Linked DNA regions of Homo sapiens: region 2 is linked to region 1. Evidence: fine-mapped expression QTL. A gene starts in region 1. The other region holds a variant in brackets. All regions are shown on one strand. Distances are between the middles of the regions.

Region 1 (2,917 bases):
CTGCTTCACGGGGGAAGGAGGTTTGTGAGCATAAGCATGTAAGTACATGAGAGGCGTGTTGCTCTTTGGTGCCTATCATACCCTCCCCATGGCCGGCGTGCACACACGGCGAGCAGAAACGCTCCCCCGCCCCGCTGCCTGCCGCCCCACGCGCCCTCCCTGCACCTCCCGCCCGACCGACGCAGACCAAGCAGAACTTCCCTGGGTCGCGGCCCAGCGATACGGAGCGGCCCTGGCGAGGAGCCCTGCTCTTCCCGAGTCGTGGGTGGCGCGGTGCTTGTTTCCCTCCCCTCCCTTTCCGGACCCAAACGGGGATGTATCTGGGTCAGCCTGGGAGGGGCCGGACCTGCCAGGGACCAGCGTGGGGGAAGGGGGTGGCGATGACAGCATCTTTCAGGTTTTTGGCGTCTCTGAGCTTCGCCTCGTCCAGCCTCTCACCGCGCTCGCTGCCGGCGAGGGCTGACGCTCTGGCCAGTCCAGGCCCGAGGGTGGGCTGGAGAGAGGGAGAGCCCGTCCTTCCGATCTGGGCGGCACCCCCTCCCCCACGCCCTGCGAACAATTCGCCTCCCACACATACACACAGGCGCATACTCTATTCCCCAGAGCACGCTCCTCGGGCGGGCAGTGAGTCCCTCCGCCCCAGGAAAAGAGCAATGGAACAGTTCACGGCCGCCACGAGTTCCTGGTCTTCCTTCCTTTCCGGTGATAAACGGCGCGGCTACAAGCCAGCTACTGCTCAAAATGCTCCACCCGCGGGCCCAAGCCCCTCTCTCTTGGCTGGGCGGGGGCCCAGGTCCAGGACCGAGGGTCCCTTAACCTCCACAAGGCGCACAGGCTGAGCGCCCAGGCGGCAGGAGGTGCAAGGGCGCACACCCCCGGCGAACGCCTGGCTGCCTCGGTTCCTCTCTATGTGATCTTTTGCGCTCCGCAGCTCCGGAGAGGAGCTGGGTGTGCGTAAAAACTGCATCTTTCCTGGGTGCTTTGGCAGATACTGCTGGGTTAGGTCCCGAGGGTCATGGACCCTCCAAGTTCCCCTCCCTATGGGCTCTGTATTTAAGCCCAGCACCAAGGAATCAAAGCCAACAGGTCATTTCGCAGAGGCCTGGCCCCTCCCTAACCTTGCCCTGCATAGACGCGGCAGCTCCAAATTTACAAGTGCTAGCTCTTCATCCCAGCTTCAGGGAGAGAAGCGAAGCAATGAGTTGAGAATCATCTCTGGATTCTTGTATCCCATGCATAGTAATCTCCTTATCCCCTGGCCCCCTTCCTCGTTTCCTCACATTGCACGCTCAGGGACTTGTTTGCCAGCGGATGGCCTCGGCAATCCGGAACGCACGCTCCGAGAGCCCACGGATGCTCTTTGGCCTGGAGCTTCCCTAAAGGTTCCTGTATTCGCGTGTGCTCGTAACCATGCAGCGATGTTCCCCCTTCCCCGCCTCACCTCATCCCCAGACATCTCTTGCCATCATTTCATGCACCCGTGTCTAAAACCCCGCGTTTCTCCCCACCCCCGCCAGGCGCAGCACCCCCTCCCTCGGCTGCGCCCGGAGGGGAGCAGAGCGGACGGGGCGCGCGGGAGGCGCGCAGAGCTTTCGGGCTGCAGGCGCTCGCTGCGCCTGGGGAATTGGGCTGTGGGCGAGGCGGTCCGGGCTGGCCTTTATCGCTCGCTGGGCCCATCGTTTGAAACTTTATCAGCGAGTCTCGCCACTCGTCGCAGACGCGAGCGGGGGGCGGGGGCGCGGCGAGGCGCCGGCGGCCGTGACGAGGCGCTCCCGGAGCTGAGCGCTTCTGCTCTGGGCACGCATGGCGCCCGCACACGGAGTCTGACCTGATGCAGACGCAAGGGGGTTAATATGAACGCCCCTCTCGGTGGAATCTGGCTCTGGCTCCCTCTGCTCTTGACCTGGCTCACCCCCGAGGTCAACTCTTCATGGTGGTAAGTCCACGCGCACGGGCGCGGGGGATTTTGGAGATCGGAATGGGGACCGCATTGGCCACATAGACCCTTCCTGGCTGCGTTCCCCCGCGGCCGCAGCAGTCTCGGATTCTGGCCCGAACCCTGGCTACTGCCCTCTTATCGCCCCATGGTGAGCCCCTTCTCTTTTCCCAGAAGATCATTTCAGCTTTGACAACTCCATAAAACCACATTCCCCCTCAAATGAGAGCTCCGATGTTTGGTTTATTTGGATCCAGCTGAGCGACAGCAAAATCAGCCAATTTCTTATCCTGTTGAGAGACGTGCTAGCCTGGTCTCCAGCTCTAGCACAGACGTGTGTGTGTGTGTGTGTGTGTGTGTGTGTGTGTGTAAATTCACCTTGAAAACTACAACCGCCTCCCCCATCCCAGCCCCCACCCCGCCAAAACTGCCTCAAGGTAAATCGACGGGCCAATTCAGCCAGTCAGGAGTTGTAGAACCTAAAGCGTGTGACTTTGTATTATTTCCCGTCCTTCCACATTCCAGGTTCACCCCAGTGGGGCGGAAGAACATTTTGCTGCCTCCAGTTAGAGACTATGGCTTTAATGCAAAGCTACAGACCCCGGGGTCTGTCTCTAAGATGTTACCTTGTTCACAACCGTCCCCGCGAAGAGTAACTTTGCTGCTTTCCTTTGTACGTTGGTCTGCAATTTATTTATTTATTTTTGCATAGTGATGGAATGTTGAACCATACCAGGTCGCTAAAAGTTCCAAAGGCAGATTCCCTCCCCATCTAGAAACCGTTCTCCATCTGCCGACTTTCTGGTCTTGGAAAGAGATAGAGTTGATAGCCCTGTAATTTCCTTGCACCTAAAAGTTTCAGAACAGATATTAAAATATTGATTCAGAGACACCCGTTATCGTGGGCTAATTTTTAAAGAATCTGGTAAGGGGTCTCAGCTAAATTACAGACTAGAGCAGGGAAATTTTTAGGAAGACACT
Region 2 (2,917 bases), 970 kb before region 1:
ATTCTCCAAGTAAAATATCTTCAATTCTATCATGGCTGTCCCCAGACAGTGGCCCAAAAACACACTCAATGCCTAGCCATATGCACTCTTCAATTTAATTAAAGAACCTCCTGAGGTGAGTTTTCCAGAACAGAACACAATACCCTGGAGAGTTCTTTCCAGGATGAAGTTGAGAAGCTCTGTTCCAGTCTTCACCAACGATATTCAACTTCTATTGTGGAGATCACAAAAAAACCCTGACATATTGAGTATATTTTCAACTCTAACTAAAATACCTCTCACTAATAATATAAATCATCATATTACCTGGTAGTGATCAACACAAGGAGTTATATTAGTGCAAAAGGTCCCCAACATATTGTTTTTGAAAACATGGGAAGTATAACTGAGTCAGTCAATAATGTGTTGGAGGCAAATAATATTATCCCCATTTACAGATGAGACACAGATTGAAGGGCTTACTCAAGGTTACATAGTCAAGAAGAAACAGAAATGAGTCTAGAATTATCTAAATCTACTGTGCCACATTTTTCACTTCACCATGCTTCCTGTATGTTTTTCATGACCTCTATCTATAGCATAATTTGTAACAAATAAAATTATCCATAGAGTAGCATAGAATTAGAGTAAAAAATAAGTCTACTTTTTATGTATTTATTTATTTTTTGAGACAGGGTCTCACTGTTATCATCCAGGCTGTAGGGCAGTGGCACAACACAACTCACTGCAACGCTGACCTCCTGGACTCAAGTGATCTTCCCACCTCAGCCTCCTAAGTAGCTGGGATCACAGGCAGAGCGCCCACAACATTCAATTAAATTTTTTGTTTGTTTGTTTCACTTTGTAGCGGTAAGTTCTTGCCATGTTGGTCTCTAACTCCTGGGCTCAAAGCAACGGGTTTACAGGCACCATGCCCAGCCAAGAAATAGGTTTACACATATAACTCTATTGCTTGCTTTTTACCCTTCTGCATACATCTTAAAAATATTTGAAGAAAAGATTTGGGGCTTGTTTAGTACTTCCCAAGAACAAGATTCTTCTTATAATATTTAAAAAGGAAATTATAATTAATTCAAGCTGACAGGTGATTTTTCTTAAGGGTCTAGAATGATGAGAGTAGCATTTTATGCTAAGGCTTTAACATGACAAACAAAATAAGAATAATTATGTGGTTGAACTAAAAATTATGAACTACAGATTCAAAATTTATTAGCATTGACCTAAAAGCCATTTAAAAGATTGAAAGTGATACCAGCTTTCACCAGGTTTTCAGTTCCTTTCCAGAAGGGAATTGACAGATCCCTTAGAGCCATAAACCTATGTAAGCAGAGAGGATTCAAGTGGGATCCTGCTTGACACAGATTGCGCCTGTTGCCTAGAAAGTAAGAGGAAGGTCCCTGAACTACAGAACTCAAGGAACTTCATGTGTGTAATTTATACACCACCCAATGGCCCCAAAAGTCCTATTTTCTCATAAGCTCGGAGACTTGTAGGTGCATCTGCAATGATTTTTATTCATTTCTGAGATATGTTGTGGGATTATGTCACAAAGTTCACTTGATAGAAAACCATATTCCCTCGAATTCACT[G/C]AGATATCTGGATCTGGTTCTGTTGCAAATTTATAGAGGAAAAAAAGTGCAAATCTGTCATTTCCACATAGTAAGTATCCCCCAAGATGGGGGACTCTAGTCGGGTGTGTCAGGGTGACTATCGTGGTTAGGAAAAGATGCTTATTTTGTAATACAATTAGCTAGAATAGCTCAACATCTCACCTTCCCGGCTGATGACACAATCCATGGTCATCTGAAGGTCTGGCATTTTACCTTGTCATATTTTACTGCATTCTCTTTCATTCTGTTCTCAGGAGCCTCATTTGGCCCTATTTGGCCTTGATTCACAGTGCACAACCTGAAAACAATTTCTCATATAAAATATTTATTTGGCTGTACAAGAAAATTTTTCCTTATAGTTTTATTCTCTCAAACACAATCAAAGAAGATGCACTCTTGTTCCTGAAGTATTTAATCACTGTTCCTCTAAAGATGGGTAGCTTGCAACAACCACAGCAATTTATTTCCCCCAATTTATTTTGGAATACTTTGAAATCATAAAAAGAGCATTGTATTTAAAATTAGAATGTGTGACCTTGAATCCAGTCTCTGCCACTAGCTTGCTAAAAGTACCTTCACTTCTCTACTCTGAGTCTGGGTTTTGTTCTCTTTTGGGTATGAAAACAATACCCATTTTAGAGCTATTGTGATGATAAAATTAGACAAATTACATTAAAACAAGGAGGCATTCATAATGTGTGAATTTTCTACCTAGAGATATAATTTTTGTGAATAAGGCTATTGACTTTGTAAATCCTCAGAATTCCAAACATACTGTATGTGTTCATCCAAGAAAAATTATTATCCAGGGAAGTAAAAGCCAATATAGTAACAGATAGTGATAAAATCTCTATTGAGTATATTGTTTTTATTAGTATTATTTATTTGGCAGATCATAATTGTGTATGTTTAAGGTGTACAATGTTATGTTTTGATATATGTATGCAATGCGACATGACTAAATCAAGCTAATTAATATATCCTTCACCTCACTTATCATATTTTGTGGGGAGATATTTGAAATTTACTCAGCCATTTTGAAATACACAATATATGATTATTCACTATAGTCACCTTGCTCTCCAATAGATCTCAAAGCTTAATGCCCGTGCCTAAAAAAAAAAACATTGTACCTCTTGACCAGCAACCACTCAACTATTCATTTTGTTGAATATTTTTGCATCTAGGTTCATCAGGTATATTGGACTATAATTTTCTTTTCTTGTAGTGTCATGGTCTGGTTTTGGTATCAGACCAATGCTGGCCTTGCAAAATGAGTTTTGAAGTATTCCTTCAACTTTAGTTTT

Direction of the effects. Alleles are on the strand shown, and positions count from the first base shown. SD is a standard deviation of normalised expression in the study named.
For the expression in lung of the gene that starts at base 1,785 in region 1, allele G in region 2 goes with a lower level than allele C (moderate effect, 0.58 SD a copy in GTEx).

What was found. PIP is the estimated chance that this variant, and not a neighbour inherited with it, causes the effect.
Region 2: its variant is fine-mapped to the expression of WNT2 in lung (GTEx, PIP 0.96).

What each region holds. Positions count from the first base shown.
Region 1 is chr7:117,321,926-117,324,842 of GRCh38, reverse strand. It overlaps WNT2 (Wnt family member 2), which reads left to right and starts at 1,785. Exons shown (of 5, transcript NM_003391.3): 1 at 1,785-1,936. The coding sequence starts at 1,854. It overlaps LOC105375467 (a long non-coding RNA gene), which reads right to left. Exons shown (of 2, transcript XR_007060645.1): 2 at 2,611-2,785. RefSeq lists a silencer at 57-514 and an enhancer at 1,917-2,491.
Region 2 is chr7:118,292,457-118,295,373 of GRCh38, reverse strand. The region is part of intron 1 of LOC102724495 (a long non-coding RNA gene); the gene reads right to left. Among named protein-coding and RNA genes, the nearest start is that of ANKRD7, 69 kb to the right of the region's middle. The variant G/C (reference allele first, on the strand shown) is at 1,590.